Linked DNA regions of Homo sapiens: regions 1, 3 and 4 are each reported to be linked to region 2. The links are microRNA targets in miRTarBase. Many come from high-throughput screens and were not tested one by one. Region 2 holds a microRNA gene; each other region holds the end of a gene's coding sequence.
The links. The annotated mature microRNA hsa-miR-152-3p reads UCAGUGCAUGACAGAACUUGG and lies in region 2 at 5,143-5,163, shown strand. An mRNA with a match to its seed (bases 2 to 7 or 8) in the 3' UTR can be bound and repressed. Matches are read on the target gene's strand: a 7mer-m8 pairs with bases 2 to 8, a 7mer-A1 pairs with bases 2 to 7 and ends in A, and an 8mer does both.

Region 1 (8,640 bases), not on the chromosome of region 2:
GACCTTAATAAATTTCTTTTTTTTTTTTTCCAAATAATCAGACTAATTGCCACTAAACTGTTGCCTCAGGGCTAGCATAAAGGCTCAATAAGTATGCACTGAATGGATGAGTACTAAAGCTAGGAGTGGAAGGAGGGAACCCAGGGCTTTAGTAGTCATCTTTGTTGGTAAAGGCTACTGGAGAACAAAAGCTGCTACTCTTTAGCAGTGGCTTCTCATAGAGATGAATTTTAGTGGCACCAACAAGATCAGGTCCTAGGGAAAGTAGTGAGACAAGTGAAAGTGCTCTTGGCCCCTTTTCCATCCTCACTCCCAGATGCTTCTCCTGTGCCCAATGCTTGTTTCTTCCTGAAAAAATATATAAAGTGATTTATTTTAAGAAAAACCTTCCTGTGATTTTTTGCAAGGCACTTAGAAGATTATCCAGAGTTTTTATGTCATGAGGCATGTCCCTAGCTCTCTCCTTCCTCTTCCCCAGGATAGTTCATCAAGTAAGCAGTTAAAGAAGTTACTGAGATTCTGCTTTATGCCAGGGATGAAGGCCAATGTACAAAGCTGGAATGGATGGGATGAGGGCTATATAGAAGAATAGGACAGAGCCCCTGTCCTTGAAAACATAGTTTAAGTGGAAATATAAACAATTAATTGTAATTCAGTATCACACATTTTTGGGGGAGGCAGTGGGGTGGAGGGGTAGGGTCTCACTCTATTGCTCAGGCTGAAATGCAGTGGCACAACCACAGCTCACTGCAACCTCCGTCTCCTGGGTTCAAGTGATTCTCGTGCCTCAGCCTCCTGAGTAGCTAGGATTACGGGAGCGCACAACCACACCTGGCTAATTTTTGTATTTTTAACAGATGGGGTTTCACCGTGTTGTCCAGGCTGGTCTCAAACTCCTTACCTCAAGCAACCCACCCACCTCAGCCTCCCAAACTGCTGGGATTACAGGCATGAGCCACCGTGCCCAGCCCCAGTATCACAAATATTTTAACAAAGGCTAAGTATAGAAGTGCTATGGCAACACAGAGGAAGAAATGATAACTGGCAACACAGAGTGGGGTACATTTTTTCACAAAAGAGATGGTACTTGAACTGGTATTGAAGGATGAGTAGAATTTTCCAGCCAAAGAGGGAAGATCATGGCAGGCAGAGCAAGCACCATGTACAGGATAGAGGCATAGGAGATAGATTTCAGGATGCCTGAGGTGATGGAAGCCCCAGTTGGGAGAAACGTTTCCTCAATGAACATCAGCCAATATTCAGTTAAGCAGGTGGCTGAGCAGGTTCCCTGTGGCTCCTCATGTATGTGTAGAGAACAACCACTCCCTCAGATGGGAATGAATATTTCAGAAAAGTTGCAAGCCATTCTCCGGGTTTCCTTTAAGAAGCTAAATGCTAATATTCAATGTTTATTGTTGCTTTCTTTCCACAATATGCCCTTCTGTGGCCTCGTCCTTCATCTTCTGTACCTGAGTGGTAACCCATTTCTCATGAAAAGCACAATGACACGGTTCTCTCCTTAAGTATGCCTGATTGTATCATGGACTTGATGTTTCTGGGGCGTGTGCCTACCATGTATGGTGTGAGTGTGTTAACATGTGGTTTAAATGTTTGCTAGTCTGCTATTTGAGCAAAGAACTTTGTTTGAAGCCCTAAAGAGAAGACAGCCATACAGCAAAGCCTCCACACTTGCTGACATCCACGTGCCCTTTTAGTAGATAAGGAAAAGGGACATTTTGAAGCTGCTGATAGAGTTAAGTTTCCTATCCTGGGAATATTATCATAGGAGCAAAGGTGGAAACCAAGGTAGTAGCTTGCATACATGCCATTGGCAGCTACCATGTCTATTTCAGTCAGTGACTAACCACAGCGTTTATTGCTGGAGGCCCTGGGCTACTCTGCCTATCTCTACATTCCACTTCCATAATGTATGAGCCATAATATGACAACAGCCAGAATCAAGAGTATCATATCATACACTCTTTTAATGAGTTTTTTAAAAACAAAAAGATATGCAGATTAGACTGGATATTAGAAAAAATGCTATTGCATATTTAATAAGATTCGAATTTGAACCCACTTGTCAACTCCATTTCACTCCAATAAAGTATGTGCTTCCAATGAGTCTCCATTTCATGATCACTAAATGGTTTAGAGTGGGGGGCATGAAATAAAGTGGTTGCCTAGTTAGCCAATGGTGTCATTGGGAAGATTTTGTCTTTGGTTAGAGAGGGAGAAAAAGAGGGGAAGGGGGAACGAACGGGAGTGAAGCATGACAAGGTCAATGTCTGGAATCTAACCTTTTCATACCTGTTTTAGCTGAAGTATCAGCAAATTGGTTGAAAAAATTAGCTATCTCTAGGCTAGTGAGACTCAGAGAGGGGACTGCAGTACAGTTTACAGGACAAATGCCATCAGATCCCTGTCATTTTTGCTTTGCCTTCCTTTTTAGCCAGTGAACACCACATATGCCATGTACCTCCATGACTCCACTTATTTCGCCCATATCTCTGACTGTTGGTTTTTGTGCTTCATCCATAGGAACTTCCACTACATCACCATCCTCCGAGACCCAGTGTCCCGGTACTTGAGTGAGTGGAGGCATGTCCAGAGAGGGGCAACATGGAAAGCATCCCTGCATGTCTGCGATGGAAGGCCTCCAACCTCCGAAGAGCTGCCCAGCTGCTACACTGGCGATGACTGGTCTGGCTGCCCCCTCAAAGAGTTTATGGACTGTCCCTACAATCTAGCCAACAACCGCCAGGTGCGCATGCTCTCCGACCTGACCCTGGTAGGCTGCTACAACCTCTCTGTCATGCCTGAAAAGCAAAGAAACAAGGTCCTTCTGGAAAGTGCCAAGTCAAATCTGAAGCACATGGCGTTCTTCGGCCTCACTGAGTTTCAGCGGAAGACCCAATATCTGTTTGAGAAAACCTTCAACATGAACTTTATTTCGCCATTTACCCAGTATAATACCACTAGGGCCTCTAGTGTAGAGATCAATGAGGAAATTCAAAAGCGTATTGAGGGACTGAATTTTCTGGATATGGAGTTGTACAGCTATGCCAAAGACCTTTTTTTGCAGAGGTATCAGTTTATGAGGCAGAAAGAGCATCAGGAGGCCAGGCGAAAGCGTCAGGAACAACGCAAATTTCTGAAGGGAAGGCTCCTTCAGACCCATTTCCAGAGCCAGGGTCAGGGCCAGAGCCAGAATCCGAATCAGAATCAGAGTCAGAACCCAAATCCGAATGCCAATCAGAACCTGACTCAGAATCTGATGCAGAATCTGACTCAGAGTTTGAGCCAGAAGGAGAACCGGGAAAGCCCGAAGCAGAACTCAGGCAAGGAGCAGAATGATAACACCAGCAATGGCACCAACGACTACATAGGCAGTGTAGAGAAATGGCGTTAAATGGCTCAAAAAGGCCTGTACATACTTCTCCCAAAGCGCCACTGAAAAGATGGCATAGCTTAAAAGATGAAAGTGTCCAAACACATCCTGCTTCCTTCATTGGGGAAGTTTTAAAAAAAAGTTTAGATGTTGCCTTTACAGTTGCCTTTCAATTCAGTGTTATACTGTGTGTAGGTAAAACAAATCTCAATATGGAATTAAATTGTCTTTTTGGGGTTGGACTAAATATGAAATCCGAAAGCCAAACCAGACTCACCAGAAATTGCTGTTTAGATATTTTAAGAAGTTCTTAAATTAGTTATGGAGACAAAGTGAAAACATAAAATGTGACCATTTAACTTATGGCTAAGAAATGGACTTTAAATTATTCATGATACACTGTTAAAACCCAATCTTGGAATCAAATATTTTTTCCAGGGGTGAGAATAAGTATAAACATAAAGCAACTAAAATGAAACATAAAACCTTTTATTTTCTTCTGATTTTAACAAGGAATCTATTTAAATAGAATAACAACTGATGGTGAATCTTACCGAGCTGTAGAAAATAAAAAATTCCTCTCCAAACATGGGTAGTTTTATGTCAAAATATTGGCTTTTCAAGAACAGGACTCATATCTTGATATTTAAGAGATGTTTAAAATTTTAAACTTTTTCTACCTTCTACTGTTTAAAGGTTTTACACAGGGTGTATCTCACATTAAACAAAACACCTTTTTTTCAAAATGAAATACCAATGTAAAGATCTAATTTCCAGGCGCTTTCAGGGCACTGTAATTTCAACAATACTGGAATCATTTTGGCGCTGCTTCTCATTCATTTTAAGGCTTCTCTGAATTGTGCTCATTCCAAATTAACCCATGTATAGAATCTTTCTTCATCATCTAAATGGTGTGTTGCTGAAGTTATTGTGGTATATAATCCTGGATTAAAGTCAGGACTTTCTTTCTATAGAATTATTTTATCAATATTTGTGTAGTGAGGTCCTAATCAAGAAACTTGAACAGGATAATGTGTCTAAAAATATTGCTGAAGTTATTCTTGATCAGATAGAATTTAACCTAAAATGTGAACTCTTACTTACTTTTTGTACATCTCTATTGTAATGTTTCCAGTTGGGCCAACTATTTCTAGCCCTTTAGTTCTTTTTCATGTTGACAGATTTGTAGACAATTACAAAAGCCAAAAAAGGATAAAATAAGCATTAGGAAGGCTAGCCAGTTATTCAATAGCACCTTGATAATGTGGGCAAACCCTTCTACAAAGTTTTTGTTTTGAAAAGAGCAAAAGTAAAAAGTGTTCTGTAGTGAGGTTACATATCAGGAACATATGAGTTGAGCAGAGTAATTTGGTAGTGTAAGTCGATGCAAAAATACTTCTATGGTACCTATTACAAGCTGACCAAGATAAAAAGAAGTATGTAACCCACTGTGCTGTCAAGCATCATGATTCCGGGCAGTTTTCATTTTACTGTGGATTTTGCTATACTTATGCAAGGACTTACACTAACCTCCTGGCTGTAAATCAAACAAGGTGACTGAAAGTGGCATTTATGTTTTCACAAGGGACATGCTTAGAAGTGTGACCATAAAGTCACATCTTGTACAATCTGCTCATGTGTTTCATCTGTAGTAATATAGCCACAAACTGGACAAGAAGCTGGGTATTTGGGTTTAAAATAGATTTTCTTGACTCTGAGCTTGTATCAGTATTTCTAGCTTTTGTTTTGTCTGACAGTATTGCAGTCTTGAAAATCCTGAGAGCTAAAAAACTGAAAGGAATTTTTCCACACCTTGAAGTCACAGTGTTTTAGAGTAAAACTATTTTGTGTACAATTGTGTTTTTAAAATAGTTAGTAGATCACTATGGTATTTCAATTTTCTTTAGTTTTAATTGAAAATGTTTGCTTTTAAAACTGATAGGTATTGTTGGAAAGCAGGATGAAGCCTGAGCCAGTGGAAAAGCTTGTTACAGAAAAAACATTTTGTGTTATTGCTGTGGTGTGCATGATTTGCAAAGATTAAGTGCATTTTCTCTGTCTATACTGATTATTGTATATAGAGGATGTTATAAATATACATATACATTTTTGCCATTATGTAAATCCCATGATTTCAACTGTAAACATCTGTCCATTGGTGTAGCTTTACAAACCATTCACTGATTTTGTGTAATTTAACAATAGATATGAAATAAAGTTTAAATTACAGGCTCTGAGTAATCTCATAATTTCAAGATTTGCAGCTGCTAGACATTGTGATCTCACAAACCAGAACAGAATTTTTTTCAACAAGACATTTCCTTTTATCCTCTTGGCAGCCAGGTATGAAAATTAGATGGCCCATTCTAATCCCTCACACTAAAATGGCCTTAATTTGGGGTGATTCCTTCTGGGAGTCCATGTTTTTTGTACAAGCGTGTCCAACCCACAATGGTGCTCTTCATTCTCCCTTCTATCCACAGGGTAGAGTTTAAATGTAAGCATTAATGTATTGGTTTTTAAAGTCCCAAACACAAAATGTGCACATTTTTTCAAACAAACTCTTATAGTTAGCACTATGGGGGAGTGGGGTATGATTTGTCCTTGCGCTTTTCCAAAGAGACTTTAAATGTCAGTCCCAAGGGGTTAGAGGAAGAAAGCTACAAATTTGGTTGGAGATGTAGTTAAGTAGCCTTAGCCTGTAAACTATTCATATGTATTGTATAAGTCCATTTTCATACTGCTATAAAGAACTGCCTGAGACTGGGTAATTTATAAAGGAAAGAGGTTTAATTGACTCACAGTTCTGCATGGTTGAGGAGGCCTCAGGAAACTCACAATCATGGCAGAAAGTGAAGGAAAAGCAAGGCATCTTCTTCACAAGGTGGCAGGAAGGAGAAGTGCTGAGTGAAGGGGGAAGAGCCCCTTATAAAACCATCAGATCTCGTGAGAACTCACTATCACAAGAACAGCAAAGGGGAAACCACCCTCATGATTCAATCACCTCCACCTGGTCTCTCCCTTGACACATGGGGATTATGGGGATTACAATTCAAGATGAGATTTGGGTGGGGACAAAAAGTCTAACCATATCAGCTTACATGGTTTTGCCTGTCAACTGCTTCTTGATCAATATTTGGGCTGCCAAAGGGCCTGATTGTATAAAGATCCTACACCCCCTTGGGAGGATCTGTGAACAGGAACATAAAGTCCAAGAACTTGAAATATTTCAGAAATAAAGTTTGGTTCCCTTTTCCCCTGAGGAGGGTAGGTACTCATGGAGAGCAGGGCGCTCTAACTGTAGTGGAGAAAAGATAGGAAACCTGCTAAGGAAATGAGCTATTGAGGCAGCCCAGGGAGGAGCTAAAATGAAGAAACAACGAATTGGCTCGGTTCCTCAGGACTTAATTAGGATTCTCAATAGGGGTGATAACCAAGTACAACCAGAACTACCTTTGGGTGATGGGTCTAATAAAGCTGTCACAATGGGAAGGATGGTTTCCTTCCATGGGTGGAGTACGGGGGTAAAAAGAAGCATAAAACTTGCATGCTGGGTCTGAGTCACAGAAGAGAACCACAGAATATTCCAGGTTGGCGATGTGCAACCCACAGCTTTCTTGCATTCATTGACCTGAAGACACTGCTTTTGACACTGAAAGTTGGGAAAGGGGAGACAGCATATTCCTTTTGCACAAATGGCCATCAGAGGTGGACTGGAAGTTTCTTCTCTCTTGTCTTCTCTAGAGATTGAACCAAGCAAAGAAACAAAAGCCGAGTACTTTGTAGAAAGTTCTAGCAAAAACACAGAGTATGCTGACTCTGAAAGTAACCCTCTGGGACTGTGGAATAAGGCAACTCAAATCTCTCACTTGGCAAGAATGAGGCCGCCTGACAGTTTTAAGTGTCCAAGGAATTTGATCAACACCTCACAATTTCCAAGGTACATCCCTCAGACCTTCACAAATGGGCAAAGCCCTCAGAACTTCAGGAGAAAACTATCCTGAAAACAAAGCAAATGAGCTGTTTCTCAGTACAAATGGCACTGTTCTGAGCAGCTAGAGCAGGGTCCAAAAACTACTGTCCTGGGGCCAAATGCAGCCCTCTGCCTGCTTTTGTAAATATAGTATTATTGGAACACAGCACGCCCATTTCTTTGCATATTTTCCCTGGCTGCTCTCATGCAACAGTGGCAGGAGTCGTTGCAACAGAGATCTTATGGCCCCAAAAGCCTAAAATACTTATTTTCTTGCCCCCCAAAGAAAAAGTTGGTCAGCCCTGGAACGAGAGAGCAGATCAAAATTTCCTAAGTATTGAAAACTTGGCGGAGTTTATAATGACCCCAGAGTCTGAGAGAATAAAAGGATGTGATTCAAACAACATACTTTCCAATACCATATCACCACAAACAACATTTACTGAGTACCTACTATGTGAGAGTCACTGCTTTTAGGCCTGAAAGCACGGGAGAACCTGGTCTTTTCTCTCAGGATTGCAGAAATCCCAGCCACATGCTGTGTCAGTAATTATAGGTGAGAGCTTAATTAGTTCTTCATTAGTCTTACATAGCTGATGCCTGCCAGTTCCTTGGAGTGTGTGCGTGTGTGTATGTGTTTTATCACATGCTTTTAAAAATTAAAACAATATATAAGTATGTAAAGTAAAAAGTGAAATTACCTATACAACTCCCACTTCCCCAAAATAACTACTGTGATTATGATTTCCTCCAGACCTCCTTGTCCTAGCCACATTCAAATCTGCTATCTCTCCCCCTCCCCCTTCCCTCCTGCTCTTCCTCCAACCCAACCGCACACACAAACACATATATTTATTTAAAAGGATAAAACCATATTGTTCTCATTGTTACCTGATTTCTTTTTTTTTTTATGAAAAAGTTCAGCAGTGTATCATGGATTCCCTTCCAAAACAGGAATATAGTGGATGGTTTATCCCAACAAAATTGATTACTGCTGATGTTATAGGTTGAGAGTATAGACTCTATATGCATGCTGCCTGGGTTTGAATCCCAGCTCCACCATTTACCAGCTCTGTGACCTTGAGAAAGTCTCTAACCTCTCCATGCCTCAGTTTCTTCACCTATAAATGGAGAAAATAAAAGCTGTAACTTCAGAGAGTTGTTGTGAGGATTAAATGAGTTAGTATCTGTAAAGCACTTAACACTGTGCCTGATATAGAATAAACTTTACTTTTCATTTTTATTTTTTTAGAGACAGACTCTCACTCTGTCACTG
Region 2 (7,213 bases):
ATAGTGAAACCCTGTCTCTACTAAAAATAAAAAAAATTAGCTGGGTGTGGTGGCGCATACCTGTAATCCCAGCTACTCAGGAGACTGAGACAGGAGAATCGCCTGAACCTGGGAGGCGGAGATTGCAGTGAGCCAATATCACCCCATTGCACTCCAGCCTGGGCAACAAGAGTGAAACTCCTTCTCAAAAAAAAGAAAAAAAGAAAAAGAAAAAGCAACAACAGTGATAGATGTGGGGGTGATGAGAACTTTGTGGTTCCTAAGCTTCCTTCCCCAGCCTTCTCTCATTCCTATCCCCTTGGCCCCTCTCCAGTGCCTTCCCATCCCTAACGTGTATAACTGACTCCTTCCCCACCTCCCCTATGGAGCCAGCCCCCTAAGTCCCCTATCTTCCCAGGTCTTCCTCTGTCCCTTCTGGAGGCTGCTGGTCTTTCATAGTGGGTACCATAGCCAAACAGAGGCTGAGAAATGCTCCTGGAGGCTTTTTGGTGCTGTCCTTGTAAATATGAGCCAAAAAAAAAAAAAAAATGGACTAGCTCACAGAAATATTAAGACATCAAAATAACCAAATCAGTATTTTTTAGAAATAACATACCCAGCCAGCATGACCATTGACATAACTTCTGATGATCTGGAATCCGAAGAAATAAAATGCCCAAATGCTGGGTCTTTTCCCTGGCTGCTGTTATCAAATAGTGTCATTATGTTCCCTATTATAACTGATAGCCTGCAAGAAAGGTTCAGATGTGCCTTCTAAGTCATCATATAGGGAGGGTCAGTAGATGCTTCCTCAGATGTCTGCATGGCCTGCTTCCTCCTTTCCTTTAGCTCTTTGTTCAAATGTCACCTTGTTAAAGGTTTTCTCAGAGGACTATGAAAATGGCTTTCTGGCTTGCCTGTCCCTTACCCCTCACATTCCACATCCCATTTCTGCTCTATTTTTCTTTGCAGCACTTATCCCCAACTCATATAATATCTACTTTTCCCATTTATTTGTGTATTATATCTTGCACAGAAACGCACGCATGTACATACACAAACACTTGATTGTAAGTTCCATGAGAGCAAAATTTTTCTTTTGTCTACTATTGTGTCCCAGTGGCTAGAAAAATATCTGGTACATACTAAGCACTCAATAAATATTTGTACAGCACATAAAATATGTTGTCTTTTTTTTTTTTTTTTTTTTGGAGATAGAGTCTTGCTCTGTTGCTGAGGCTGCAGTGGTGTGATCTTGGCTCACTACAGCCTCTGCCTCCTGGGTGCAAATGATTCTCCTGCCTTCACCTCCCAAGTAGCTGGGACTACAGGCACTCGCCACCATGCCTGGCTGATTTTTGTGTGTTTTTAGTAGAATCAGGGTTTCACCATGTTGGCCAGGCTGGTCTCGAACTCCTGGTCTCAAGTGATCTGCCCGCCTTGGCCTCTCAAAGTGCTGGGATTACAGGTATGAGCCACCACACCCAGCCAATATGGTATCATTGATAGGTACATTTTAATTATTATTAGTTAAAATTTGGTATTTGTGAATATTTATACATGATCTCCCTCATCCTGAATTCCTTTATTCATTTACTTCACAAATGCTTATTAAATATCTGTCATCGGCCAGGTGCAGTGGCTCATGCCTGTAATCCCAGCACTTTGGGAGGCCGAGGCAAGCAGATCACAAGGTCAAGAGATCGAGACCATCCTGGCCAACATGGTGAAACCCTGTCTCTACTAAAAATACAAAAATTAGCTGGGCGTGGTGGTGTGCACCTGTAGTCCCAACTACTCGGGAGGCTGAGGCAGGAGAATCACTGGAACCCGTGAGGCGGAGGTTGCAGTGAGCCGAGATCTCGCCACTGCACTCCAGCCTGGTGACGGAGCAAGACTCCGTCTCAAAAAAAAAAAAAAAAAATCTGTCACCAAGCCTTGTAAGAAACACTAGGGATTCCACAGTGAACAAGACAAACATAATTGGCCAGGTGAGGTGGGTCACACCTGTAATCTCAGGGCTTTGGGAGGCCGAGGCAGGAGGAGGGCTTGATCCCAGGAGTTCAAGACCTGCCTGGACAACACAGCAAGACCCTGCCTTTAAAAAAAATAATAATAAATAACCAGGCATGGTGGCACGTGTGTATCGTCCCACCTACTCAGGAGACTGAGACAGGAGAATGGCTTGATCCTGGGAGTTGTTTGTGTGTGTGTGTGTGTGTGGGTGGGTGGGTGGGTAGCAGGTTCTCGCTCTCTTGGCCAGGCTGGAGTGCTGTAGTGCGGTCTCGGGTCACTGCAACCTCCACCTCCCAGGTTCAAGTGATTCTCCTGCCTCAGCCTCCCGAGTAGCTGGGATTACAGGCACCTGCCACCACCCCCGGCTAATTTTTTTGTATTTTTAGTAGAGATGGGGTTTCACCATGTTGGCCAGGCTGGTCTCAAACTCCTGACCTCGTGATCCGCCTGTCTCGGCCTTCCAAAGAGCTGGAATTACAGGCGTGAGCCACCGTGCCCGGCCGACACTGGGAATTTGAGGCTGCGGTGAACTATGATCACACCACTGTACTCCAGCCTGGGTGATAGAGCAAGACCCTGTCTCAAAACAAAAAAACAAACAAACAAAAAGTCACATTCATTGGTTCTTGCAGGGCTCAAAGTCTGGGCGGGGAGAAGGAACACTTATAAACAAACTAGTAAAGGCTGGGAATGGTGGTTCACGCCTGTATCCCAACACTTTGGGAGGCTGAGGTGGGAGGATCACTTGAGCCTAGGCGTTCAAGACCAGCCTGGGCAACATAGTGAGACCTTGATCATGATCACCCTCCTCCCCCTCCTCCTCCTCTTCCTTTCTTTTTCTCTTCTTCTTCTTCTTCTTTTTTTTTTTTTTGAAACAGATTCTCACTCCCATTGCCCAGGCTGGAGCACAGTGGCATGATCATGGCTCTGCAGCCTTGAACCCCCAGACTCGGGTGATTCTCCCACCTCAGCCTTCTGAGTAGCTGGGACTACAGGTCACACCACCCTACCTGGCTAATTTCTTTGTAGTTTTAGTAGAGACTAGATCTTACCATGTTGCCCAGGCTGGTCTGGAACTCCTGGGCTCAAGCCTTCTGCCCACCTCAGCCTCCCAAAGTGCTGGGATTACAGATGTGAGCCATTGAGCCCAGACTTGAGACCTTGTTTCTACAAAAATAAAAAAAATAAAAAAATAAAAAATTACCTGGGAGTGGTTGCATGCACCAGTGGTCCCAGCTACTCGGGAGACTGAGATGGGAGGATTGCCTGAGCCCAGGAGGTTGAGGCTGCAGTGAGCCCAGATCGAGTCACTGCACTCCAGCCTGGGCAACAGAGTGAGACCGTGTCTCAAACAAGCAATATTAGTAAAAATAATATTTAGAGATTGAAAAAAGTGCAATGAAAGAAAGAAATAGGAACTGAGAGAATGTGACAGGAGAGACCTATCAAGTCAGATATGGTGGCTGTCAGGAGGACCTTTTGGTAATTATATTTCAGCAGAGGCTTGAAGATAAGAAGACTTGATGCATTCAGTGAGGAAAACCCCATTCTGTAACCATCTAGGGTAAGTGACTGTGGTCCACAACATAAGAGGGCTTGAAGAGAAGAATAGGGAAGAAATTTTGAGTCAAAAATCTGGGTTCTATCCCCAGTCAACTAGCTGTATAGTCTTGAAAAGGTCACACAACCTCTGAGTCTCTCTTTGCTTAAAATGAGGGTCCATTATGCCTATCTTACAGGTGTGGGCTATATTAGATAATGGATGTGAAGGTGTCAAATGTAAAATACACGCACAGTGTTTTTACCGGTAAATGCATACGTAGCACTAACATATCACTGGGATGTGAATTTCCCACTTGCCAGTGTACCCTGAAATGAGAGCTTGTCTTAGTTAGACTTAGACCAAAGAAACCAAAACATGCTGCAAAGCCCGATGTCATTGGTGGAGCATTTGTGCTGCTGGGCGTCTGTCTTGCTTCTGATGGTGCCATATCTGTGACTTAGGAGAGCCTGGGGAGGTGTCTCCGGGCCCATGGTTGCCTTCTGCAAGTAGTGAGAGAGGAATGAGAAAGCCTCTTCACAGAGGGGTGTCCCCAGAACTGTCCTCATTTGCTCTTGCTTATAGACCCTGTCCCTGAGATCTAAAGGGTGACCTGACGTATTTGTCCTCATGGTACCTACCAGAGGTCAACAGACAAAAGTGGGCTTTGCTTGTGTTTGCTGCTGGCCCCAGGACAGCCTATAGACACTGGCGCACACCAAAGCCACAGGCCGGAGAGCAGGCAGGAAGCAGGACGAGGGCTGGTCTTGGGGCACCCTGAGGATGCAGAGTTCGGGGATGTAAGGGACTCGGGAAGGAGCCAAGGAGGAGAGAGGGAGAGGAGAAGTGGGGGAAGGAGAGGTGGGGTGAGGGCGGGAGGGGAGATGGGGGAGAACGAGCAAGAGGACGGGGCCCCGAGGAAAGGGAGGCCACGCGCGAGAGGGGGCCGCGGGGCGGCGCGGAGGCGGGGCGGCGGCGGCGGGCAGGCGGCGGGCGGCGCTGTCAGTGCGAGGCGGCGAGCGGAATGCAGCGGCCCGAGGCCTGGCCACGTCCGCACCCGGGGGAGGGGGCCGCGGCGGCCCAGGCCGGGGGCCCGGCGCCGCCTGCTCGAGCCGGGGAGCCCTCGGGGCTGCGGGTACGGAGCGGGCGGGCGCGGGGATCCCGGGCGGCGGGAGCTGGGCAGGGACAGAGCAGGGTTAGGGGGAGCAGCCAACTCAGAACTCGCGCGCCCGGCGGCTGGGAACTTTGTGTCACCCCTGACTGGCCCCAGGACCCGGGAGGAAAAGTTCGTCCCAGCGCCGACCGGAGAGGAGGCCTGTCCTGAGTCCGTCGGCGCGGGGCTGAAGTTCTGGGTCCGTTTGGAGTGGGGGTGGCGGGTGAGTTGCGATTCCGCGGGGAGGGTAAGGAGTGGCCTGTCCGTCCCAGACTCGGCTCCCATCACCGGTGGGTGATGGGCATGCTTCTGGAGTCTACCCGGGCCAGGGCCTGGGGGCGCGCTGATAGCGCAGGTCCAGCCCGGCCAGGGATCAGCTGGAAGAAGGAGGCTCGGCCCGCTGTCCCCCCCGGCCCAGGTTCTGTGATACACTCCGACTCGGGCTCTGGAGCAGTCAGTGCATGACAGAACTTGGGCCCGGAAGGACCTTCTGCACCCAACGGGCACAGCGCCCACTCGGGGCCTGCAGTGGAACATCTGCCTGGGAGTGGAGTGGGCACCTGGGTTGGCCCATGTGGCACAGGGCTGGGCAGAACCAGCTGTGGACCTTGAGGACTGGGGTTGCTGGGGCCTGAGGATGTATCCTAGGGCCAGCAGATCCCATAGACACAGGGTGTCCACCTCGAGTCAGGGGCCAAACGGAACTCTCCTCTCCGGTGTCAGTTGCAGGAACCTTCCCTCTACACCATCAAGGCTGTTTTCATCCTAGATAATGACGGGCGCCGGCTGCTGGCCAAGGTAACCTCTGACCCCACCCATGAGGGACACAGTTCCCACTCAGCTGACACTCCTGTCTCAGGAGAAACTCCACTGTGATCTCTGTGACTCAGGGCAGCTCAGCTTAGACCCCTCCAGAGGTCCTTCTCATCCTCCTGCCTTGTCAAGGTGCTGCTCCCTGAAATGAGGGGTCTCCTCTATTTCTACTCATGTTCCCTGAAATGTTTCCTTATCATCCTGCTACTGGCCAGTTGGACCTGGGCATGGGAAGGTTCTGCCTAATGGGTCAGTGGAGTGTTGAGCCTGGGACCCAGGAGTCTTAGTCCCCAAACCCCCACACAAGTTCTTTTGTTCTTTGGGGTTTGTCTCTAAACCTCCACTTTTGTTCTACAGCTTGGTAAACACTAACGATTTAGTCTAAGGAGTCTAAGGATTTAGAACCAGATGGGATTTTAGAAACTGTATAATCCAACTCTTTAATTTCGTAGATGAAGAAAATGAGGGGTAGAGAAGCTAAGTGAGTTGCCTGAGGTCACAAGTATTAATATCCTAACAGATCCAAACTCAAATTTTATTTATTTACTTATTTAATTTTTTCACTTCTCCCATTTCACAGGTTTCACAGGCAAACTCGGGTTTTTTGACATGAAGCTCAAGGTGGTTTTCACTGTACCCCCATTCAATTAGCTGTTATCTATCCTAGCAAACATGGCCTGAGCGAACCAAACTAAAATAATCCAAAAATAAATTTCTGCTGTCAACACAATTAATTGTAGGGGAGCTATAGCATCTGCATTAGCTATGAAATGCATTATAAGGCCAGGTGTGATGGCTCATGCCTGTAATCCCAGCACTTTGGGAGGCCAAGGCGGGCAGATCACTTGAGGTCAGGAGTTCGAAACCAGCCTGGACAACATGGTGAAACCCTGTCTCTACTAAAAATACAAAGAATTAGCCAGGCATGGTGGTGGGCGCCTGTAATCCCAGCTACTCGAGAGGCTGAGGCAGGAGAATTGCTTGAACCTGGGAGGCAGAGGTTGCAGTGAGCCGAGATCACACCATTGCACTCCAGCCTGGGCAACAAGAGCGAAACTCTGTCTCAAAAAAAAAAAAAAAAAGAAAAGAAAAAGAAAAGAAATGTGTTGTAAGGCCAGGCGCAGTGGCTGATGCCTGTAATCCCAGTACTTTGGGAGGCCGAGGCGGGTGGACTGCTTGAGCCCAGGAGTGCCAGACCAGCCTGGGCAACATGGCACACCCCATCTCTACAAAAAACAAAACAAAACAAAAACAAAAAACAAAAAAACGAAAATTAGCCGGGCGTGGTGGTGTGTGCCTGTAGTCCCACCTACTCGGGAGGCTGAAGTGGGAGGATTGCCTGAGCCCGAGAGGTTGAGGCTGCAGTGAGCCATGATCGAGCTACTGCACTCCAATCTGGGTTATAGAGTGAGACCCCATCCCAAAAAATAGATTTTCTGTTTGTTTATTTGGAACTGAAAGTTTTTTGTTTTTATGAAATTCAAATAAGCAGCGGCCACTAGGGAGATGGCTAATCTGCCTGCGGATTGAGTATTAAGTGGCAAAATCCACATCCAGAAAATTGAAAACTGAGCTGACCACACCTTGCCCCAGCAGATGGTCAGAGGTGGATCAGCAAGGCCAAAGGCTTTTCCTCCCTACAGATTAAGAAACTGAGTCAGAGAGAGAGGCTCACCATTCCCAAACAAAAAACATTAATTTAGTTATGGGAT
Region 3 (4,000 bases), not on the chromosome of region 2:
AGTTGATTCCTTAGACTCAGGAAATAATCCCAGGTTACAAAAGCATCCTAATTTTGCTTTTTCTGTTTCAAGTGTGAATTCACTAAGCAACACAATATTTCTTGGAGAATTAAGCCTCATATTAAATCAAGGAGAATGCAGTTCTCCTGACATACAAAACTCAGTAGAGGAGGAAACCACCATGCTTTTGGAAAATGATTCACCCAGTGAAACTATTCCAGAACAGACCCTGCTTCCTGATGAATTTGTCTCCTGTTTGGGGATCGTGAATGAGGAGTTGCCATCTATTAATACTTATTTTCCACAAAATATTTTGGAAAGCCACTTCAATAGGATTTCACTCTTGGAAAAGTAGAGCTGTGTGGTCAAAATCAATATGAGAAAGCTGCCTTGCAATCTGAACTTGGGTTTTCCCTGCAATAGAAATTGAATTCTGCCTCTTTTTGAAAAAAATGTATTCACATACAAATCTTCACATGGACACATGTTTTCATTTCCCTTGGATAAATACCTAGGTAGGGGATTGCTGGGCCATATGATAAGCATATGTTTCAGTTCTACCAATCTTGTTTCCAGAGTAGTGACATTTCTGTGCTCCTACCATCACCATGTAAGAATTCCCGGGAGCTCCATGCCTTTTTAATTTTAGCCATTCTTCTGCCTCATTTCTTAAAATTAGAGAATTAAGGTCCCGAAGGTGGAACATGCTTCATGGTCACACATACAGGCACAAAAACAGCATTATGTGGACGCCTCATGTATTTTTTATAGAGTCAACTATTTCCTCTTTATTTTCCCTCATTGAAAGATGCAAAACAGCTCTCTATTGTGTACAGAAAGGGTAAATAATGCAAAATACCTGGTAGTAAAATAAATGCTGAAAATTTTCCTTTAAAATAGAATCATTAGGCCAGGCGTGGTGGCTCATGCTTGTAATCCCAGCACTTTGGTAGGCTGAGGTAGGTGGATCACCTGAGGTCAGGAGTTCGAGTCCAGCCTGGCCAATATGCTGAAACCCTGTCTCTACTAAAATTACAAAAATTAGCCGGCCATGGTGGCAGGTGCTTGTAATCCCAGCTACTTGGGAGGCTGAGGCAGGAGAATCACTTGAACCAGGAAGGCAGAGGTTGCACTGAGCTGAGATTGTGCCACTGCACTCCAGCCTGGGCAACAAGAGCAAAACTCTGTCTGGAAAAAAAAAAAAAAAAAAAAAAAAAGAATAACTAATACTTGCTTGCAAAGGGAGAGGCAAGTTTAATTTTCATTTTATCACTTAAAATTCTCTTGAGTAGATAAAAATATAGCCCCAAATGACAAAATAAGTGAAGAATAGAAACAGAAGAGAAGTTAGTCGTTTGCTGTATTATTTTTTTCCCCTACTCTCCAGGTATTAGGGATTTGATCTTAGTGTGATTTGGGACTAACAGCGCTGTGAAACAATAATGTGTGGAATCATGGGTTGCTGTCTTCACTTAAGTCAAGAGTGATGGCCTTGTTTTCCTGTGGCATAGTTGGGATATTATTTATACTATAATAGAACCTATGAGAGGTAACAGATGCAGGATCAGCAAGACGTAATTTTTTGTTTACAAACCAGATATATGTTAGAAAATTATTGTTAAAACAGGTATCTGTTCAGTACCTGTTTTGATGGCAAATACTTGCTGAACCTACCATTGCCCCATATCCCATGTCTCCTGCAGATATCACCAGCCAATCAGAACAGGCCTTTCTACTGAGCTGTACAAGTGCCCTCAGAAGCCTCCCAAGCAGTGTTCCTTATGGCCACAATCCATAAGGACTGGAGTAGGAGATTAAATCTATCTACCAATGATGTCAATATGGAAAAGTGGTTGATCTTTAAAAATGAAATACATATTTTAAGCTGAGAAATGTTACCCAGCAGACTATTGTGATTAATATTTATGGGCAAGGACAACTTTTCTGAATGATCAGAACAGTTTAAAATAGGGTAGAGTAGGGCATGTAAATTCATGCCTATAGTCCTAGCTACTCAGGAGGCTGAGGCGGAAGGAACACTTGAGCCCAAGAGTTAGACACTGCAGTGCGCTATGATCAATGATCATGTGCCAGAGCAAGACCCCGTCTCTAAAAAATAAATAAATATTCGTTCATTCATTCATTAAAATAGGTAGATTACACACTGAATTTCTTTTTCTCCTCCAACAGTTGTCAATTTATACTCATATTTAGTCATTTAATTTTATTATGAAAAATCAAGCAGTTAATTTTAAAAAGACTCATTGCTTACTATGTCTTTAGCAAATGAGCAGGCTATTTTGTTTTACTTTTTTTTTTTTTGATAAAAATCTAAAAGCAATTTTATGGTCATTAAGTATCCTTGAAATGAGGTTGACTGTATATCCCAGTTTGCCCTGGTTTCTGTCCATTGTCCTATTGTTAATTATGACCAATAACTGCCCTCATTCACTCTCAGAAGCATCCCTTATTTGGATAATAAATCATATGGTCACTCAAGACTACTTAATGTCCAGCATGTAAGTAATTCATCAGAAATTTATCTTTTTTTTTTTTTTTGCACTGACAATCCTCTTTATTTTACTTTTTATCATTTACTAAGGCCATTTTGCTCCAAAAGGGTATTACTATTCATACTGTAAAAAAAAGTATCCCCTGATACTTTTACATAGTGTAAAAAAAAAAAAAAGTTATCCCCCAGATAAACTCTATTCTGTTTATCCTAAAATATGTATATATTTTTTGTACTTTGCATATTCTGAAAGGAATATATTTTAAATCACTAATGAAATGCTAATCTTAAATACCTTGACTTGTAAATTGCCGTATGCCTTTGCTTGATTCTTTTGCAAAAGGAGAATCATAAAGTAGCCAAGAAGGAGGTAGCATTTGAGATTGAAATAACAAAAGACTAAGATAAATCTTTGATGTTTGCAAACCTGATGAAGACGTCTGGTAACATGTGAAGAATATTTTTATAGTACGTTTCACCATAATTGTAATCTATCACACATGAAAAAAGCTTTTATCAAGCTTAAAGGATTACAGCATTGTTTGATCTTCTGCAAATGTTTCCACTGCAGCGAGTGCCTCCTTTTCGCCCCCTAGAGTGGGAAGGAAGCTGCTTTCTCATTCTGTGGTGTCTTAACCCACATCACTATTCAGCACAAAGGAGACACTTCTGATTCTGTCTTTGCCATTAGCCCTTGTTGGTCCCAATGGACTAGAAATTGAGGCTATACCTGCAATGGGAGCAATGTACCTGCCTTTGTCCCAACTCAGGGGAAAAATTCAAGCTGCTTTATCACAATGCAAACTTCGCGGGGGAGAAAGGGTTTCTTTCTATAATTCTTGTATTCAAGAAGGATTCATTGAACTACTGAATGTCCTTACTGTTATATGTGCAAGGCCATTTGAAGGATATGGATTTAACAAAACCAGTCAATCCCTGCAGGCTTGGGGCTTATATCCTAGGGGGAAGAGACAGACAGTAAATTAGGACAAGTCATTGCCCCCAAGGAGCTTACATTTTAGTAGGGGAAGAGGCCAGAGGTAGGGGGTGGAGAGAGGCAGAAAAAAATAAAGGAAAATGTCAGATAATAAGTGCTGTCTAGAGAGGTAAAATGGGATAATGTGGTGGATAGCAAATCGGTGGCCACTTTACACTGGGTGGTCAGGAAAGACCACTCCCAGGAAGTGATACTGATGTTCATCTGAGTCTCAGGTAAGAGCCAGCTTGCCACTGACAAATCCTTCTATAGAGAAAGCCTTGAGTGGCTAATGTCTTTACTTCTTTCCCTCCCGTACAACTTGCCACTGATTATCTTCCACCCTGACCACTCCCCACCTCCCATCTTAACCTTCTTAAGCCAGAATTTTCTGCAGATTCTGAGGACAAGTGCATACCTATTCATCTTTCTATCTAGCTCTTGTGTCTATTATTAACTTTCTTTCTCTGAGTCTCACAATCTTTTAAGTCGCTGATTCCTAAAGGGGCATG
Region 4 (8,100 bases), not on the chromosome of region 2:
TAATAAGGTAAATTGCCCTTTGCCAAATTTAATATAGTTATCTTGGATAAGCTGAAAATTTCCTGACACATGTCAAAAGTCTCATCTATTTGCAGTCTTACTAAGGTGAAGTTTTTTGGGGTGGAGCAGTATAGAATGTCAAGCCTGTAGCAAAAAAGGCTGTACTGTACATATGTCAGTCTCTGTTGCTTTCCTGGGTGTCAGTGAAATAAAGTAAACAGTCAAATGTAGTAAACAAAACATGTTTACTTTAGTAATACAGTGACTGTCATAATACTTAACATGTAAAAAGAAGGCCAAGGACCTTTAGCTTATCCTGTGGTGTCAACCCTGTCTCAATGTAAGGCACTAGTGTATCTTAAAGTAAGAGAATGACTTTTATTCAAGAAATACACAACAGGCAAGTGCCGTATACCAGGAATTGTTCTAGGAATCTGGCAGTGAATATAAGACAAACTACCTGCTCTCCTTGAGCTTCTATTCTAACGTGGGAGAAAGAAAGCAAATAAATTACATGAATTGATTAATTGATCAGTTGCATGGCTTTTAGTATACATTTCTGTCAGTCTGCCAACCAGCACAGGTCCCTTATTAGCATGGGAGAAGGGCCTGATCACTGAAAGTATTATAGATTTATAGAGTATTGAAAGGAAACTTAAGGAAATTGGGGGCAGTGGCCTTTTAGAAAACAGCCTAACTCCATCAGTGACTTCTGCTTGCTTGTGCCTCTCATATGTGATCTGCTACTGGCCTTTGTTACTTCTCTCTGAAATAACACAAAAATTATGTTTAGGGCTCTCATTGACTTCAACTCCAAACCATATGTTACTTCTTTTAAAAACATAATTTCTAAAAAAAAAAAATATATAGAGAGAGAGAGGCAAATACAGTATCTTAAGATGATACTATATTTGAAATTCCAAGCTAAAACCCTGGAACAAGAAGCTGGTAATATTTTGGGAAGCATTCTTTATTTTTGAGTAGTCTTTCTGTGTGTAGGCCTCTAAGTTCCCAAAGATATCCTTTGGTAGCAACTGACTTACTATGTAGTAGCATTATTTGATTTTAAGTCATTTGATTTTTTTATCTGAGGAGATACCTTTATTATAAAAAATTTTACTTGAAGAAATTTATCTTGATAAGCAAATGTAAGGCTGTCACTTTTGCTTATTGGCATTAAATAAACATACTACAGTTTTTCCATTTAAAAATGTGGGTTATTTGATTATGCCAGAGTAGTTACAATCAAGAACTAACAAACATTTGTACTTAATGTACTGAAAGGTCTTTGCCCACTTTTTAAAAGTTCTCTTGCAGAACTACAACTCTGTGAAGTACTACATTTATAAGCCAAAACATTTTTAACAAAGAAGAAAAATTCCCATCATTCATTTAACCAAATACAGTAGTAAACTTTGTCTTTAAAATGGGGAGGCTTGTTATTATAGTTGCTTTTGTTTTTGTTATACCTGTGGTTTTTGCTGTGTTTTTTTAGAAGTTGAAGGGAGCGTGCTCTCTCTGGGGGTTCAGTTAATTGCAGTGAGTAAATCAATATTCAGCAATCATGTCTTTTAAAGCCCTTTCTAATCTTGAGATTTTATGATTCTATATTTACCTTTGCCTCTGCTTTTTCCTTCAGTGATAAGAGTGCAGGGATTATGTAGGGGTTGAGATGGGGAATGAATTGGGCTAGTGGTTTAGGAGGTGATGGGCATTAAGTGGGAGTTGAAAACATGTTGTGGTTGATTCTAAGAGGGGCAATTGCTATTGGCTTCTGCTTTTTTTGTAGTTTTTTTTTTCAATACTAAATACATGTTCTTAATTGTAATTATTTTTCAAATTAGGGGAAAAAAGGAAGAAAAAGATAAACCCAAAGATAAAAATAATTTTTGAAAGTCACCTTCTCATAGCTTCCTCCAAACAGACAATCCCTTAATTCTTAGAAATGGGCCAATATATAAATCATCAAAAAGATGATTAAGAATAGGCTTTGAAAAGAATTTTGGAGGAGATAAGGTATTTTTCACGGGATTATGTTATTTATTGGCTCATAAGTTTCCTGAAAGATAGAATTTATTTTTGGTGATAAGATTGAATTTAAGGTAGATATTTTATGTCCCTTGGAGCTAGACAGTCTTTTTTATCTTTTGTGTTCCCAGCCCCAAATATACCACCTAACCTATACTAGGTACTCAAAAATTGTTTCCTGAGCTTAACACAGTACTCATTCTTGGTGGAAATAACAGCAAGATAATCCCGGTGTAAAAGGAGTAGACTTTTTGTGAATAAGGGAATTCTTTTTCAGTCACTCTCCAAAATGTTCTCTTTCAGAAAGTGTACAAAAAAATTTTTTTTTTTGCCTAGTATATTGGAATCACAAGCACTGACTTCATATTTCAAAGTTGAAAGAAATGAGATAGATGTCCCACACAGCTGTAAAATGCCAAAAATAAGTAGTGCTGACATAAATTAAAGGCCAGTGCTCTGAAAAGCCACAGAAAAGCTTCAGATCAAGGGTGGCTATAATTGAAAGGGCCCAAATAAGTATTTAAAACCACCCCTCCTGGGACTGCTAAGATTTCTGAATTTCAAATTGGCATTTTATGTTTGACAAGGTGACATTATATAAGAAATGTATTGTAAAACACTGCTGTATGATAGGAAAATGATTGAATGTAAATATTTCAAGATGTAGACCACTGTTCAAATGTTATCATAAATCTTTGCCATTGTTTTAGGGGATAACTCTTCATGCATATATGAGCTGAATTGATACAGCCAGCTCTTCGAGGGGAAATCATCAGCACATTTCTGCCTCTCTGCTACCATAGATCTGATTTAACCACAAAAATATCCTATTAGGTTTTGCTATTATTATCATATGTTTATTATTATGTAAGTGGGGAAACCATTTTTTGAAAATATACATCTGGCATTTGCCCTACTCATTGAGTGGTCTGAAATGTCACTGTTAGGTGAAATTAGAATAGCCTGGGACAGTTTGCACTCTCAAACCTTGAAAAGAAAAAAGCTTGAGTTATAAGATTAACTATCTTTCCATTCTTTGTAGGTTTGGAAGGTTTGCAGTTGCTGCTCTTCAGTCCAAAGTAGAACAGTATGAGCGTGAAACCAATCGCCTCAAGAAAGCCCTGGAACGAAGTGATAAGTATATAGAGGAACTAGAATCTCAAGTTGCACAGCTAAAAAATTCAAGTGAAGAGAAAGAAGCTATGAATTCCATTTGCCAGACAGCACTTTCTGCAGATGGCAAAGGGAGCAAAGGCAGTGAGGAGGATGTGGTGTCAAAGAATCAAGGCGATAGTGCCAGAAAGCAGCCTGGCTCATCCACCTCCAGTTCTTCTCACCTAGCGAAGCCTTCCAGCAGCAGACTGTGTGACACCAGTTCTGCAAGGCAGGAAAGTACCAGCAAAGCAGACCTTAACTGTTCTAAGAACAAAGACCTATATCAAGAACAGGTAGAAGTAATGTTAGATGTGACAGATACAAGTATGGATACTTATTTGGAAAGAGAATGGGGGAATAAACCAAGTGACTGTGTACCCTACAAAGATGAAGAACTTTATGATCTTCCAGCTCCTTGTACTCCTTTGTCCCTTAGTTGCCTTCAGCTCAGTACTCCAGAAAATAGAGAGAGCTCTGTGGTCCAAGCAGGAGGTTCCAAAAAGCACTCAAACCATCTCAGAAAATTGGTGTTTGATGATTTTTGTGATTCTTCAAATGTTTCTAATAAAGATTCTTCAGAAGATGATATAAGTAGAAGTGAAAATGAAAAGAAATCAGAATGTTTTTCTTCCCCAAAGACAGGATTTTGGGACTGTTGTTCCACAAGCTATGCCCAAAACTTAGATTTTGAAAGTTCAGAGGGGAACACGATAGCAAATTCTGTTGGAGAAATATCTTCAAAATTGAGTGAGAAATCAGGCTTATGTTTATCCAAAAGGTTGAATTCTATTCGCTCTTTTGAAATGAACCGGACAAGAACATCCAGTGAAGCATCGATGGATGCTGCTTACCTTGACAAAATCTCTGAGTTGGATTCAATGATGTCAGAGTCAGACAACAGCAAGAGCCCTTGTAATAACGGTTTTAAGTCACTGGATTTGGATGGGTTATCAAAGTCATCTCAAGGCAGTGAATTTCTTGAGGAACCTGATAAGTTGGAAGAAAAAACTGAGCTAAACCTTTCCAAAGGTTCTCTAACTAATGATCAGTTAGAAAATGGAAGTGAATGGAAACCCACTTCTTTTTTTCTCCTCTCTCCATCTGACCAAGAAATGAATGAAGATTTTTCACTCCATTCCAGTTCTTGTCCAGTAACTAATGAAATCAAACCCCCAAGCTGCTTGTTTCAGACAGAGTTTTCCCAGGGCATTTTGTTAAGCAGTTCACATCGACTATTTGAAGATCAAAGATTTGGGTCATCTTTGTTTAAGATGTCCTCAGAGATGCACAGTCTTCATAACCACCTTCAGTCTCCTTGGTCTACTTCCTTTGTGCCTGAAAAGAGGAATAAAAATGTGAATCAATCAACAAAAAGAAAAATCCAGAGCAGCCTTTCCAGTGCCAGCCCATCAAAAGCAACTAAAAGTTGACTCATTAGAAAGGTGTCATTTGTGGTTTTGTCCTGAGAGAAATAGAAAAGTTGTTAAAGTTACCTTTTTTCCTCATAAAAGTTCTATACAAATTGGAATTGATAATCTTTAGTCAAGTATCAAGTCAGGATGGTGGATTAACCTGTACCCAGAATACTTATTGTTCATTTTGAAAAGACTTTGTTCTTTTCATTTTTATTTGGGAGTCTTTGTGACCAGAGAAGTTAGGGAGGAGGTTATTTTTGTGTTTTGGGGTTGGTTGGTTGGTTGGTTTTGTTTTTGGTTTTGTTTTTTTACTGAATTTGATATGTATCTCGGTTGGATATACATTGTTTTTTTAAAAAATGTTATTTAACTGTTAGATACAGTGGCCTGTTGATAAGCCCCACTTGTCTTCAGAACTTGGATTTCTTAAATAAAACTTTTAGTGTTGTCTATACACTGCTCAATAAGACACTTGAGTTTAAGCTTTTCCCAGGGTGGAAATTATTTTACCTGTCCCTTTTTATTTATGTTTAGTGATGGCCTAGTTTTTCTGCAGGGCCATGATGGAGAAATAGCACTCTAGCCTTAGTCCAATATTGATTTACTTTCTTTTTTTAGGTTTTATGTATATGTTTGCATTTTTTAGCATTGTGTTTTGTCCAGTTTTGTGAAAATGTTCTGCTAGTATGAAAGAAAACATTTTCTATATGAAGACATTTGTTTTATGTTAGGTAGCTTACATTTTCTCCTCTGCGTGTGTGTGTATGTGTGTAAAATCAGAAATTTAGCATACTATGGAAAGAAGGCATGGAGCACTTGGGTTTAGAGGAACCTAAAACATCATAGCTTCATTGTTCCAGATGTAACAGGTTTGAAAGAGCTCATCGCCAAGTTCTTGATCCACTTGCATTCCAGGGGAGTTTTCTTTTGAGTAGTATGTTTCTTGTTTGCATGTTCCTGTTCTTTGTGGAAACTATGCATGGTAGCATTTTTGCTTGCTGTGTTTTCCATACTTAAGAAAAAGAGGTTTCAGTTGGCTGATAGAATATCTTTTATGTAGGACAAAACTTTTCTGTGAAGAGTGTTGAGGGGGTGAAGATAGGTAAGAGGTAAGCACAATTTTTAATTTAGGCTCTGAAAAAGTGTATTGTTCTAAACGTATTTGGTATGCCTATATAGGTCTTTAAAAATGGGTATGTATGCTGTTTAATGTGCACTGAACATTTTACATTAATATTGTACTGTTTTACATTAATACTGCATGCTTTTCTATGTGAATTGAATAAAGAATGTCATAAGCACTGTGTTCCTTGATGTCGATGATGATTCTTTGTCTCGTATATTGAATTAGCCTATAAAGACCAGGAAAAACTACTTTTTTTTTTTTTTGAGACGGAGTCTCAATCTTGTCGCCTAGGCTGGAGTGCAGTGGCGCGATCTCTGCTCACTGCAACCTCTGCCTCTCAGGTTCAAGCAATTCTCCTGCCTCAGCCTCCTGAGTAGCTGGGATTACAGGCACCTGCCACCACACCCAGCTAATCTTTGTACTTTACTAATAGAGACAGGGTTTCGCCATGTTGGCCAGGTTGGTCTCGAACTCCTGACCTCAGGTGATTCTCCTTCCTTGGCTTCCCAAAGTGCTGGGATTACAAAAAACTACCATTTCTTAATTGATTTTATAATACATTGAAAAACTATGGTTCATGGACCAAATCTGGTCTGCGGCTATTTCCCAGGCTGGAGTGCAGTGGTACAGTTATGGCCCACTGCAGCCTCGGGTGGGCTGGGCTCAAGCCATCCTCCCCACTCAGTCTCCCACAGATCTGGGACTACAGGCATGCACCATGTCAGGCTGATTTTTTAGTTTTTGCAGAGACAGCGTCTCATTATGTTGCCCAGGCTGGTACTGAATTCCCAGGCCCAAGTGATCCTCCTGCCTCAGCCTCCAAAAGTGCTGAGCCACCACACCTGGCCAATCATAAAATTCAGTTTTATGCATTTTAATCTTTTTTAAAAATCTCCCTTGAAAGGCCTGTGAGCAAAAAATGGAATTTACAGTTGTAGAAGGTTTTTAAAAATCCATAGATTATTGCATAACACAGGAAAATTATATTAAAGTCACATTTCATTGTTTCTAAATAAAGTTACTTGAACACAGTTACACTCATTTGTTTACATATTACCTACAACATCTAAAATATTTACTATCTGGTCTTTTACAAAAAAGTTTGCCGACCCTTGTTATAATAGACTGAGGATTCAATGAAACCATAAAAGTGACAATTCACATTTGTAATTTGAAGAATCATGTCCTCCACTTATAGAAGTAATAGCCAGAGGCCGGCGCTGTGGCTCATGCCTATAATCCAAGCACTTTGGGAGGCGGAGGCGGGCCGATCACCTGAGGTCGGAAGTTCGAGACCAGCCTGACCAACACGGAGAAACCCCCATCTACTAAAAATACAAAATTAGCCAGGCATGGTGGCACATGACTGTAATCCTAGTTACTTGGGAGGCTGAGACAGGAGAATCGCTTGAACCCAGGAGGCGGAGGTTGCGGTGAGCCGAGATAATGCCACTGCGCTCCAGTCTGGGCAACAGGAGCAAAACTCTGTCTCAAAAAAAAAAAAAAAAAAAAAAAAAAGCCAGAAAGAGCTAATTTAAAGCAGAATTTTGTTTTATGTTACATATTTTCCAATCATTTTTCTGATATGTTAAAGCTAATGGATACATTCAGAGCTATTGGCACTTTAAATGTCTTTGATAATATGACTACACGTTAGAAACTCAAATATAGAAATTAAAATTTTTCTGCCACAGGTTAAATTTAGGGGTGGTATGATCTAAATCTGTGTTCCTCCAAATTCACATGTTGTAACACCCAAGGTAATAGTACTAAGAGGTGGGGCCTTTGGTAGGTGATTAGGTCATGAGGGCTTTGCTTTCTCTGAATGGGATTAGTGCCCTTATAAAAAAGGCCTGGGTGCCAGGCACAGTGACTCAACGCCTGAAATCCCAGCATTTTGGGATGCCGTGGCAGGCGGATCACGAGGTCAGGAGATCGAGACCGTCCTGGCTAACACAGTGAAATGCCATCTCTACTAAAAATACAAAAAATTAGCTGGGCGTGGTGGCGGACGCCTGTAATCTCAGCTACTTGGGAGGCTGAGGCAGGAGAATGGCTCCAACCCAGGAGGCGGAGGTTGCAGTGAGCCGAGATCGCACCACTGCACTCCAGCCTGGGTGACAGAGCAAGGTTGCAAAAAAAAAAAAAAAAAAAAATGCCTGGGGTAGTTTCCTTGCTTCTTCCGCCATGTGAGGAGGACACAGCTAGAAGGTAGCATCTTTGAAGCAGATACTGAGACCTCACCAGAATCTGCTGGTGCCTTGATCTTGGACCTCCCAGAACAATGAGAAATAAAATTGTATTGTTTAAAAATTAGTCCAAAACATTTCATCATGGCAGTACAGATGGATGAAGACAAGGGGTAAGCCTCATTGT

Region 1: miRTarBase lists HS6ST2 as a target of hsa-miR-152-3p. The part of its 3' UTR that is shown has no 7-base or 8-base seed match.
Region 3: the mRNA of IL23R is a reported target of hsa-miR-152-3p. Seed matches in the 3' UTR shown: 8mer at 1,129-1,136.
Region 4: the mRNA of OBI1 is a reported target of hsa-miR-152-3p. Seed matches in the 3' UTR shown: 8mer at 5,811-5,818.

The regions. Positions count from the first base shown.
Region 1 is chrX:132,622,995-132,631,634 of GRCh38, reverse strand. It overlaps HS6ST2 (heparan sulfate 6-O-sulfotransferase 2), which reads left to right. Exons shown (of 5, transcript NM_001394073.1): 5 at 2,542-5,620. The coding sequence ends at 3,412. Among named protein-coding and RNA genes, the nearest start is that of HS6ST2-AS1, 40 kb to the left of the region's middle.
Region 2 is chr17:48,035,124-48,042,336 of GRCh38, reverse strand. It overlaps MIR152 (microRNA 152), which reads left to right and starts at 5,090; the gene lies at 5,090-5,176. It overlaps COPZ2 (coat protein complex I subunit zeta 2), which reads left to right and starts at 4,540. Exons shown (of 9, transcript NM_016429.4): 1 at 4,540-4,670; 2 at 5,412-5,486. The coding sequence starts at 4,560. RefSeq lists an enhancer at 3,374-3,423.
Region 3 is chr1:67,258,774-67,262,773 of GRCh38, forward strand. It overlaps IL23R (interleukin 23 receptor), which reads left to right. Exons shown (of 11, transcript NM_144701.3): 11 at 1-1,206. The coding sequence ends at 355. Among named protein-coding and RNA genes, the nearest start is that of IL12RB2, 47 kb to the right of the region's middle.
Region 4 is chr13:78,612,093-78,620,192 of GRCh38, reverse strand. It overlaps OBI1 (ORC ubiquitin ligase 1), which reads left to right. Exons shown (of 6, transcript NM_024546.4): 6 at 3,071-5,904. The coding sequence ends at 4,613. It overlaps OBI1-AS1 (OBI1 antisense RNA 1), which reads right to left. Exons shown (of 6, transcript NR_047001.1): 6 at 2,868-4,518. Among named protein-coding and RNA genes, the nearest start is that of POU4F1, 13 kb to the right of the region's middle.